2 separate regions of the Homo sapiens genome follow, and region 2 is linked to region 1. Evidence: fine-mapped expression QTL. Tissue or cell type: lung. Region 1 holds a variant in brackets; the other region holds the start of a gene. All regions are shown on one strand. Distances are from middle to middle.

The links. PIP is the estimated chance that this variant, and not a neighbour inherited with it, causes the effect.
Region 2: CNTN6 starts here. The variant in region 1 is the best candidate, but not a certain one, in a credible set for the expression of CNTN6 in lung (TOPMed, PIP 0.77).

What each region holds. Positions count from the first base shown.
Region 1 is chr3:1,384,323-1,390,742 of GRCh38, forward strand. CNTN6 (contactin 6) reads left to right here. Exons shown (of 23, transcript NM_001289080.2): 20 at 1,289-1,475. Among named protein-coding and RNA genes, the nearest start is that of CNTN6, 290 kb to the left of the region's middle. The variant C/G (reference allele first, on the strand shown) is at 3,330.
Region 2 is chr3:1,090,293-1,096,712 of GRCh38, forward strand. CNTN6 (contactin 6) reads left to right here and starts at 2,732. Exons shown (of 23, transcript NM_001289080.2): 1 at 2,732-2,828.

The DNA.
Region 1 (6,420 bases):
CCTCAATCATCTTACACCATGGAAGAATTTCATTGAGAAACCTGCTTTGTGAATTGCAGTATAACTTGGAAAGATGTAATCATCTCAGAAAAGGCAGTTAAGTAATGAAAAAAAATACCTAGATTGTCTTGAATCTGCTATTTTTAGTCTATGAAGAATAAGGCAAATTACATTTGTAGGCCTTCATCTCACAAAGTAAAGAGACAAGAACATTTTAAGGGAAAGTTGTTCATCACTCAATCTTTTTCAACTTGCAAATTCAGTGATTCACAAAATGGGTAACATAATTTATTTAACTTTGGATTTAGAATAAATGTATAATCCTAAACATTCTTAATTTTGCCTATATATATATATATATATATACACACACACACACGTATACATATACATACTATATATACACACATATATATACATATATACACATATATATACATATATATACACATATATATATATATATATATATATACACACACACACACACATATATATATATATATATAACCATAATCCTCTGATTCCAACAGAAAGTTCTACTCTCAGGACAGGTGTCTTTTCCACTCCATGCCAAGAATGCCTTACCTCTTATCTGAACCCTAGTTACTTCTCAAATTTCATCCCTAGTCGCCTCTTCTCTCTGAGCTCTACTCCCATCAATTCCTGATGTATTTTGTCAAATTCTTGTAGCATATTTTTTCTATACCACTTCTTTGCAATGCATTCTGTGACTTATTTTCACATACACTGTGGATTCTAACCTCTTAGCTAGATGATAAGGGGCTTGAAAATAGGTACTTAATTTATTCTCTTTTTTTTTCAATGTACCTAAAACAATGCTAATGCAAAGGTAGGGTTCAGTATAAATTGAATTATTAATTAACCTGTGATTCAAATAACTCTGAAAAGAAATGCCAATAGCAAGACATTATAATGAAAGTCTTTGACTGATTATATACAAATGTGTTTTTGTCTGACTTGTTATACATCATTTGCTAAAGCTGGTAACCTTTAGATAGCTCATAAAATACTTTATTTTGGTAATCTAAAAAATCACGTTCTCTAATTTCCATTGTGAATTTGCATTCATGACTTTTTTCCTCATAAATATTAGAGAATAACAATTTTGTTGTTGTATAACCATTTTAATTAGAAAACGTTTTTGTCATCTATACTTCTGTCTTCTTCCCATATTCCTTGTGGTTGTGGTTGATAGTTGTTGGTAAAAAATGATTGATAGTTATTGGGGAACAATAAATTGCTTGTTTTGGTTTTTAATTATCAGGTCTTATACTGGACAGATGACTCCAAAGAATCCATGATAGGTAAAATTAGAGTCAGTGGAAATGTCACAACCAAAAACATCACGGGGCTGAAAGCTAATACCATCTACTTTGCTTCCGTAAGAGCTTACAACACTGCTGGGACAGGGCCCTCAAGCCCCCCAGTCAATGTTACCACCAAAAAGTCTCGTAAGTATGCATACACTCCAGGAAACAAGATTCATCTGTGAAGAGCAACCTATTCCTTTGCTTGATGTTCATTTCATTCCCACACCTCATTTCTTTACTAATTGGTTACTTTGGTTAGTTGGTTTGTCCCTTAAATATGGATACTTGTTGAAACCTTTTGGTAACAATCAAGGTAATTGTTTTCATATTTCTGGAATTCCAAAAGAGGAATATTCCAAGTATATCGATGAAAGACAGAAGAGCATAATGTTTAAGACTGGCCCTGACGCCCTCCTTCTAAATGCATTCAAAAACTGACCTCCTATCCTTGGAACGTTAGGTGGTATTTATCTTTGAGTCTCAGTTGCCTACCTATAAAATGAGGAAAAAGTCATATTTATGTTTTCATAGGTTTTGTTCAAGATTGAAAGAGATTATTAATAATAAGTGTCCAGTACACACCTTAATATATGCTCAGTAAATGGTTTTTTTGTTTTGTCATTTGAGTCCGAGTATATTCACATGTGATCCTACAACTGTCAGACACCTAGATCTTTCCTTTTAGGATACCTTATTACTACAGCTTACTTGGAAGTCCCTGAAATCTAAGAATGAACTCTTCTGTTTTGTCTTATATCCCCTGATAATCAGCCAGGTGATTTCACAGAATCAGAATCTGCTACATAAAAGATGAATGTTTTTCATCTTTTGGTGATTGTTGCTGCCTTTATTTTCTGACTGAGTCTGGTAATGCACAAATATTCCATAATACGAGGCACAGCAATAAATTGGGAAAGGTCTGATCATCCGACTTAGTTGTTCCTGTAAGATGATTTTTTTGTGGTTGAATAATATTTACATATTCCTTATATATTATTAATGAACACAAATTATTCATAAAATCAGACTTTTTAAAACACATTTTTTTGCTCTCTGAATCCTGATGAATGAAAGATAACAAATATAGTTGCTGAATTTTGAGAAAGACTAAGACAAATTCAGTGCCACTTACAAAAATCTAGTTTACCTATACATGCCGTAGTCTAATTACACCACCATATTTGGAAAGAAGAGATGGTTAAGAAGAGTTTGAAAATAAAGTTATATTAAAGTTATTCCCCTTATGCGTATATATGCGTATATTTGTCATGTCCAAAAGAAGTTAGTTAGGAACCATCTCAGAGAATAGGCCCTTGATTAAATAGATTATCCAGTTATTTCCACACAACCAGATCAACTGTCAGATATTCATGTTCCAATTCTGGGTACATCATTGACTCACAACTTGAAATAGGACAAGGCATTCCATTTTTTTGCTTTCATGTTCTTATCTATTTATTAAATAGAAATTATCTCTGTCCTCACTCCTTCCCAAATTACCCATGAAGCACAAACAAGGTACTGATTCTGGAAGCATCTTAGAAAATACAAAGTGCTGTGGAACTGCAAAAGCCTGTGGAGCAAAAATTTTTGAACCAAATTTCCTCCAGTCCACCCAGTTTTAGACAGGCTGGGCTGTGAGTTATTTTCAAGAATGGATTAGTTAACAATGAAGTTCTATTCCTTTTCCTGTTTTACTCAATGTTGACTAAATCAATGAAGTTGTTGCCAGATAACTTGGATGTATGATTTGCTTCTTTGGTCTTCCTGGAGTGGTTTAGCTTCTTTCAGCTAATCTGCAAATCCGAATGAAAATCTCCAATCAATCAGCAGTTTTCAGATTACCTAGACATTTAGTTCTAGTTGACTGAGAGATGCCAAACTCACAGAAACTCTTGTGTGTAGGGGGAGGAGCCAAGATGGCCGAATAGGAACAGCTCCGGTCTACAGCTCCCAGTGAAGACGCGTGATTTCTGCATTTCCATCTGAGGTACC[C/G]GGTTCATCTCACTAGGGGGTGCCAGACAGTGGGCGCAGGTCAGTGGGTGAGCGCACCGTGCGCAAGCCGAAGCAGGGCGAGGCATTGCCTCACTTGGGAAGCGCAAGGGGTCAGGGAGTTCCCTTTCCAAGTCAAAGAAAGGGGTGACGGACGCACCTGGAAAATTGGGTCACTCCCACCCGAATATTGCGCTTTTCGGACCAGCTTAAAAAACGGCGCACCACGAGATTATATCCTGCACCCGGCTCGGAGGGTCCTACGCCCACGGAATCTCGCTGATTGCTAGCACAGCAGTCTGAGATCAAACTGCAAGGCGGCAGCGAGGCTGGGGGAGGGGCGCCCGCCATTGGCCAGGCTTGATTAGGTAAACAAAGCAGCCAGGAAGCTCCAACTGGGTGGAGCCCACCACAGCTCAAGGAGGCCTGCCTGCAACTGTAGGCTCCACCTCTCGGGGCAGGGCACAGACAAACAAAAAGACAGCAGTAACGTCTGCAGAGTTAAATGTCCCTGTCTGACAGCTTTGAAGAGAGCACTGGTTCTCCCAGCATGCAGCTGGAGATCTGAGAACTGGCACACTGCCTCCTCAAGTGGGTCCCTGACCCCTGACCCCCGAGCAGCCTAACTGGGAGGCACCCCCCAGCAGGGGCACACTGACACCTCACACGGCAGGGTATGCCAACAGACCTGAAGCTGAGGGTCCTGTCTGTTAGAAGGAAAACTAACAAACAGAAAGGACATCCACACCAAAAACCCATCTGTACATCACCATCATCAAAGACCAAAAGTAGATAAAAACCACAAAGATGGGGAAAAAACAGAACAGAAAAACTGGAAACTCTAAAACGCAGAGCGCCTCTCCTCCTCCAAGGGAACGCAGTTCCTCACCAGCAACGGAACAAAGCTGGACGGAGAATGACTTTGACGAGCTGAGAGAAGAAGGCTTCAGACGATCAAATTACTCTGAGCTACGGGAGGACATTCAAACCAAAGGCAAAGAAGTTGAAAACTTTGAAAAAAATTTAGAAGAATGTATAACTAGAATAACCAATATAGAGAAGTGCTTAAAGGAGCTGATGGAGCTGAAAACCAAGGCTCGAGAACTACGTGAAGAATGCAGAAGCCTCAGGAGCCGATGTGATCAACTGGAAGAAAGGGTATCAGCAATGGAAGATGAAATGAATGAAATGAAGCAAGAAGGGAAGTTTAGAGAAAAAAGAATAAAAAGAAACGAGCAAAGCCTCCAAGAAATATGGGACTATGTGAAAAGACCAAATCTACGTCTGATTGGTGTACCTGAAAGTGATGGGGAGAATGGAACCAAGTTGGAAAACACTCTGCAGGATATTATCCAGGAGAACTTCCCCAATCTAGCAAGGCAGGCCAACATTCAGATTCAGGAAATACAGAGAACGCCACAAAGATACTCCTCGAGAAGAGCAACTCCAAGACACATAATTGTCAGATTCACCAAAGTTGAAATGAAGGAAAAAATGTTAACGGCAGCCAGAGAGAAAGGTCGGGTTACCCTCAAAGGGAAGCCCATCAGACTAACAGCAGATCTCTCGGCAGAATCTCTACAAGCCAGAAGAGAGTGGGGGCCAATATTCAACATTCTTAAAGAAAACAATTTCAACCCAGAATTTCATATCCAGCCAAACTAAGCTTCATAAGTGAAGGAGAAATAAAATACTTTACAGACAAGCAAATGCTGAGAGATTTTGTCACCACCAGGCCTGCCCTAAAAGTGCTCCTGAAGGAAGCACTAAACATGGAAAGGAACAACCGGTACCAGCCGCTGCAAAATCATGCCAAAATGTAAAGACCATCAAGACTAGGAAGAAACTGCATCAACTAACGAGCAAAATCACCAGCTAACATCATAATATGACAGGATCAAATTCACACATAACAATATTAACTTTAAATGTAAATGGACTAAATGCTCTAATTAAAAGACACAGACTGGCAAATTGGATAAACAGTCAAGACCCATCAGTGTGCTGTATTCAGGAAACCCATCTCACGTGCAGAGACACACATAGGCTCAAAAGGATGGAGGAAGATCTACTGAGCCAATGGAAAACAAAAAAAGGCAGGGGTTGCAATCCTAGTCTCTGATAAAACAGACTTTAAACCAACAAAGATCAAAAGAGACAAAGAAGGCCATTACATAATGGTAAAGGGATCAATTCAACAAGAAGAGCTAACTATCCTAAATATCTATGCACCCAATACAGGAGCACCCAGATTCATAAAGCAAGTCCTGAGTGACCTACAAAGAGACTTAGACTCCCACACATTAATAATGGGAGACTTTAACAACCCACTGTCAACATTAGACAGATCAATGAGACAGAAAGTCAACAAGGATACCCAGGAATTGAACTCAGCTCTGCACCAAGTGGACCTAATAGACATCTACAGAACTCTCCACCACAAATCAACAGAATATAGATTTTTTTCAGCACCACACCACACCTATTCCAAAATTGACCACATACTTGGAAGTAAAGCTCTCCTCAGCAAATGTAAAAGGACAGAGATTATAACAAACTATCTCTCAGGCCACAGTGCAATCAAACTAGAACTCAAGATTAAGAATCTCACTCAAAACCGCTCAACTACATGGAAACTGAACAACCTGCTCCTGAATGACTACTGGATACATAACGAAATGAAGGCAGAAATAAAGATGTTCTTTGAAACCAATGAGAACAAAGACACAACATACCAGAATCTCTGGGATGCATTCAAAGCAGTGTGTAGAGGGAAATTTATAGCACTAAATGCCCACAAGAGAAAGCAGGAAAGATCCAAAATTGACACCCTAACATCACAATTAAAAGAACTAGAAAAGCAAGAGCAAACACATTCAAAAGCTGGCAGAAAGAAAGAAATAACTAAAATCAGAGCACAACTGAAGGAAATAGAGACACAAAAAACCCTTAAAAAATTAATGAATCCAGGAGCTGGTTTTTTGAAAGGATCAACAAAATTGATAGACCGCTAGCAAGACTAATAAAGAAAAAGAGAAGAATCAAATAGACACAATAAAAAATGATAAAGGGGATATCACCACCAATCCCACAG
Region 2 (6,420 bases), 290 kb before region 1:
TCCATTCACCTAAAATCGGCACATATCCATTAGCACAATATCCATTGAATTACCTGATACCTTTGTCTAAAATCCACTGTATATGTGCTGATCTGTTTTTGAACACTTAATTATGTTTTGTTGACCTATCCTGCCAACATCACACCGTCTTTATCGCTCTATTACTAGTAGTAAATTGTAAAAATCACAGGATATGTCTGCCAACTTTGTTTATCATTCGATTTTACTTTCTTGGTTAATTTTATTGCTACATAAATTTTAGCCTCATTTGATGATTGCTACAAGAAAATCTCCTGATATTTTCACTGAGATTATTTTAAAGCTAAAAACCTATTGGGAGATAATTGACTTCTTAAAAATATTGAGTGTTTTTGACCCATGAATGTGGCATATTTCTTTACTTATTTAGGTCTTAATTAATTTTCCTTAGTAATTCTGTGTAGCCTGTAGTGTACAGACCTTGTTTTAGATCCTTGATACCCACACCTCCTCCCCCAGTGTTTAAAAATTAATAAAATGAGAAGATATCAGCAAAGGGATCTGAGAAGGAGCAGGTAGTAAACGAGAAGAAAATTTAAGAAATTAAGCAAAAGCAATGCTTAAAGGAGGAGTACTTGGTAAACTGTATTACTTGTGAGTGATACATCAAGTAAAATTAGGACTAAGTTGACCATTGCATTATTCTATGCGTAATTTAATATTGACTATGACCAGAAACACTTATGTGGAACAGTGGGGACAAAAGACTAATCAAAGCAGATTCAAGATAAAATGAGAAAAGATGAATGGAGACAGTAAGTACAGAGAATTCCTTCAAGGTGTTTTACTATAAACAGAAGCAAGGAAATGCAGTAGTAGACAGAGGAAGACGGTATGTTAAAGGGGTGCTGATTTTTAAAATGGGCCAACTAGCAGCAAATCTCTTTGTTGTGATGCTACAGAAGGTAGGGAGAGTTGATGATTCCACAGAGAGAGACAAGTGGGTAGAATGGTCCCTTGAGTAGAAGACTATCTAAAGCACAGGTGGATGGCTTGGTCTAAGGAGGGAGCACGGTTCACCTCAAGTAACAAGATGAAGGGAGAGTCTGTGGTCACAGGGGCCAAGTATGTGACTAGATGTAGTGACAGGAGCTTATTGAAGTTTTCTTCTGGTTCTTATTCCTTTTTGGGTAAAATAGAAAGCAAAGCAATCAGCTGTCCTTGAATATGAGTCAGACTGTTGGAGATTTGAGTAAAGGGATATTCTTTAAGCTTGAATGAATTTCTTTCCACAAAAAAAAAATAAAGCCTACTACATAATGATTATTTTTCTTAAAACTCTGCAGAAAAAGTCATCTTGGCATTTTTACAAATAAAATATATTTTTATTCCTACAGAGCAAGAAATACTTCTATTTTTTTTAAAAAAAAAAAAAAGAGGCAATAAAAACAGATATTCTTTCTATAAAATTATTAGTCTAGTTTGCCTTCTTATGAATTGGGAGAAACAATAGGGTAGCCCATTTTGAGTTTACCTTGTGTTAGGAAGCATCATCTCCTTTCTAAAGCCTCTTATAATGTTGGTTAGACCCTGTGAAGAAATCCATAGGACATAGTCATAAAATGTAGTCATAGAAACCTTCTTGCTCATCAGATGAAAGTAAACTGAGGCCAAGAAATATCTTTTGACTTATTTCCATTTGATTTGGGGATTTCATTTTCTCAGTATCCACTTACTTTAAGATGCTAAGAGTATAATTTCTTTGTATGCCAACATGAAAATAAGTCCAAACTATCATTCTTTTCTCATGTTATAGTTATGTTTGTATGCACTAGAGTCTCAGTGTGCATGTATGTGTAATTCCTATTCCTTAGTTTTCATCCTTCAAGCAGTTAGTCCCTTCAAAACCCGATGACAAGACCCAAACATATTAAAAAGTTTAGTTGGAGGGCCCAGGGTGAAACACAAAAACAATTCTTCTTCTTACAGAGCTCTTAGGCAAACACATAGACACTTGTTCTCTGCCTCTGGAATTACAAATATGTTACTCGGAAAGCAGCAATACTCTTTTGGACTTGTTTGACTTCACTTTCTTTACCTGTCTTTAAGAAGCCTCATACACACATTTAAAAAATACAACTTATAAAGGTTTTAGTGATAGTGCATACAATCATTTGATTTTATTTCCCTTTTCTCTTCACCTTCACTAATAGGAGTTACTGGCATGCTTCAAAAAGCTTACATTTGAATACTGTCTAAATCAGTGCAGACCCTTGACCAGCTTAATCTTTGCTTGCAAATGACAATGCAGTGAAACCAGAGGAAGAAAAAAATTACTTCCTTTCCTGTTGGAAACCTAATAAGTAGTTAGTCTGACCCAGTTTTCAATAAGAGAGATTTTCTGATGACCCGACAGGAGTGACTATCTCCAGTCAAAGAAAGAGGAGGGTGAATTTAATCTTTCATGGCCCTGGAATGGCAGCTGCTCTCAGCTCTCTCTGATTCTGTGAAGGTTGATGAAGATAGAGCTGGCTTTCAATGTAGAAAGAATTTTCCTTTTGAATATTCCAAACGAGAGCTTTGCACATGTGCCTCAAGAACTGATTGTCTGGCTCCGACAGGAATGCAGCAGGAGAGGAGCGTATTTCATGCTTAAGACCAGAGAAGAGCCACGCAATACTCAGTGGATAAAAGGCTTGCAGTCCCAGCTGGGAAAAAGAGTCCCATTATCTCCCAGCTGCATAGACATTCCATACGGCTTGGTTCTGCCTGGACGCACAGCATGCCTGGCTGAGAGCTTGAAACAGAGTTCTGCAGAAAAACTGTAAAGATCCCGAGACATTTCCCTGGTAAGATCTGTAAGTACAAAATTGTGCTGTGTCTGCTGCAATGAGAATATTGCTGGGCAAGCTGCAGCTTTTCTTCCTTTCAATGTCTTTGTATTAGCATAACAGGTAAAAGCTGGGGTTGGGGGAGAAGTCACTGCTTTATTGATGCTGTGTTTCTATGATGCTGATGTTTAAAATGCATTTATTCCTTGTGTGGGAGAAATGTATTGAATCTGTATTCCGGGAGGTTAGGATCAAACCAGGGAAAGAAAGACTACAGGTATATTTCTCAGTGTTTCACTAGTCTTTGCTGCAGTAAAACTAATGGGCAAGACGGGATGACAGTGCTAATTCTGGGACTTTCAGATGGCTACACGCCCTTTCTGTAACGGCAGATGGGAAAATGTGATCGCTAAATGTTTTTTGTCTTTTTTTTTTTTTTAATCAAAGGGATGAGGGGTGGGGTTTGCAGTTCTCACCGGATGATTTAAAAGAATGGTTATAAAGTTTCCTAGGGGAGAATTTGGTAAGGGGAGCAAAGCAAGACTGGAGGTCATATGGGCTCACCAAATTTTGTCTGGCATTTTGCTTTATACCCAGCTTCTAGATAACAGCCTCTGGAGTTTCCTTTACCATTTACACCAGTTAAGTTGTCAGTATTAAGGTTCTTATAATACTTTATGAAAACTTTCAGAAGTTGATGACTTGGGAACAAAACTTTTAAGAGCTCTGAGATTAGCCACGTATAACCCATTATGTTAATGGGATACTGTAACATTGGGGTTTGGGGGGAAAATTGGAATTCATAGTTTTTGCTTCTCCAAATGAAAACTACTTATGTTTAAATAATCAGCATCCTGACTATGTCCTCTGAGAAACATTCACAGAATGACTAAATAGAAGTTATACTGAGAAAAAATAGAGTGAACAGTAGAATCACACAGAATCAATTTGGAAAATGAGGTATTCATAATTTTATCTACAGTGGCAATGTTTTCTGAAGATGTCTGTAAAAGAAGAAGCATATGCTGAATATTGAATTGCTTGTTTTGAGCAATTTTCATTTATCTGATGGGTTTATCATCTTTTTATTTTTGTTGTTGAAGGTTTCACCAATTTATGTGCATTGTATTTTATAAGGAAAGAAATGTTTAAGCAGACTCTTTTTCCCTCCTCCTTCACACACATGTGTAAACATACGCATGTTCACAAAACAAACATAAACATACAAAAATACTTACACAATTTGTGTAAAAAAAAAGAAATACAGAAGCATTTCATCTTTGATGTTTCAGTGGGGTTTCTTTTTCTTTTTTTAAGCAATAATCATGGCTGTGCAGTCCAAAGATTTCAAATATATAAATGTGGAAACTTTTATATAAAGCTTTATGTGAGGTTATATAAATGCATAACTTATCACATCTTAGCAAAAAAGTCAATCATTTATAAATGACTTCATTGCATTACTTCCTTTGAATATTTGTAGTGAAGGACCAGAATTTTTTTTTAGAATTTTTATGTAGCTTTCCTTAATGAAAACAAATTCACTTGTTTACTTAGAAAAGGATCACATATTTTCTCTGAGTTTAGAACCCCCTCTAAAAAAAATCAATTATGTTGTGAAAAGGATGTGTGGTATATTAAATTGATTGCATACTTCTGGGTTTTTTTTTTAGTAAGTAAAAATGCTCAGTAGTATAATAGTAAATTTGTACCTTTTAAATTCTTTTATGTGAGGAGAAGGAATACAAAATATTTGCTTATTTATTCACTGTTTATTTTAATAACATATTAATTGGAATGCAGAAGTATAAGTTCTACCTATTAAAAATGACTCAAACTATACATAAAAGTTCAAAAGGGAAAACCCATCACCTGTAAATAACAATCATGAAATTTGGCGACTATCATTGGAGACATACTGGTGCCTAAATTCAGATAAGATGAGAGATAAATACTTTTGTAAGAATGGTTTCTTACTATACACCTTTTAAAAAATAAATAATAAATATTTAGATAATATAGTCAATAATAGATACTCTTCTGTAAGAATGAGATCTTATCCTACACTTAAAAAAAAACAGAAATATTGGCCGCGCGCGGTGGTTCACACCTATAATCCCAGCACTTTGGGAGGCCGAGGCGGGCGGATCACGAGGTCAAGAGATTGAGACCATCCTGGCCAACATGGTGAAACCCCATTTCTACTAAAAATACAAAAATTAGCTGGGCGTTTTGGCGTGTGCCTGTAGTCACAGCTACTCAGGAAGCTGAGGCAGGAGAATCACTTGACCCCGGGAGGCGGAGCTTGCAGTGAGCAGAGATCGCGCCATTGCCCTCCAGCCTGGGTGACAGAGTGAAACTCCATCTCAAACAAACAAACAAACAAACAGAAAACAGAAAACAGAAACATTGAGTTTAATTTTTGATTTTAGATTTTAATTAAACTGAAAAAAGAGAAGTTGAAACAACATTGAAGAAATTGTTAAATTTCATGTATAGATTTCTCTCCAATGGAGATATTATGTCCAGAATAATACCCTTACAGTTAAGACCAAAAATTTTGAAAATAGAAATAGTTTGAAGATTTTTTTGGATGCACGTTTAAATAGTAAACAAACTTTTATAACCCTTGTTATGATAGTTAAATGCATTTGCAATGTGACTTGTCATCAACTCCACCCATACCACCTCAATTTAAACTACATCAGTTTTACATTACTGAGTACATACATTCTGGCTGAATTCCCATGGTCTCAGTTTAAACTTATTTCAAATTTGTAAGGAATTATCCTTTATCAACAGGCTTTTACTACCCAATTCACCATTTCTGTGTTCTTTATTTTCAATTATTTTTTGGGTTGTTAGATTTCAGTAAGTAGTACCTCTCCACCAAAGAAATAGTCATAGGTGCTATATTTTCTATGAGTTTGCATCTTGAACATGTATTTCTTTTGCCTTAGACATGCAAGATACGTTATCTTTCTTGGATCAAGCTTAATTTTTTCTTTTGGAAATGTGTAAATGTTTAAACATTTTTGGAGACCCTTCCTGTACTGAAAGTTGTTTTGCAACATTTTTAGGTCTGTCTGCAATTTCCGTCATTGAATGTGACTTGCTTTTTTTCTGATAAATGCCTACATGATTCTTTTGTTGTGTGTGTGTGTGTGAGTGTGTGTATGGGTGTTTGCTTTTACAGAATATTCCTGGATTTGTTCCATTTTCATTAACTTTTTTTGAGGTTTGCCCCATTAATTTAAGATTCTTTTATTTTAGGATTTGTTGTACTATTTCTTTTTTGTCCCTTAACTGGGCGTGGCCAAATTGTGGTTATCTTGCTTCTTTCTTTTCTTCAGGATCACCAATTTTGTACATGTTGTATCTCATTTGTCTACTTTCCACATCTTTCATATCCAAATTTCTTTTCAATTTTAATTGACAAATTGGTTATCTTCTTTATTTGAGAACCACTTGTTCTCTTGTTTGCCACTTGAATGAATAGTATAGCTTGCAATAAACCTATTAAGGCACAACCTTCTGTATTGTGATCTTGTAAATACATGTTTCCTTCTCTTAACACTCTAGCAATTTCCTCAGCTGGCAGGTTTTTGGG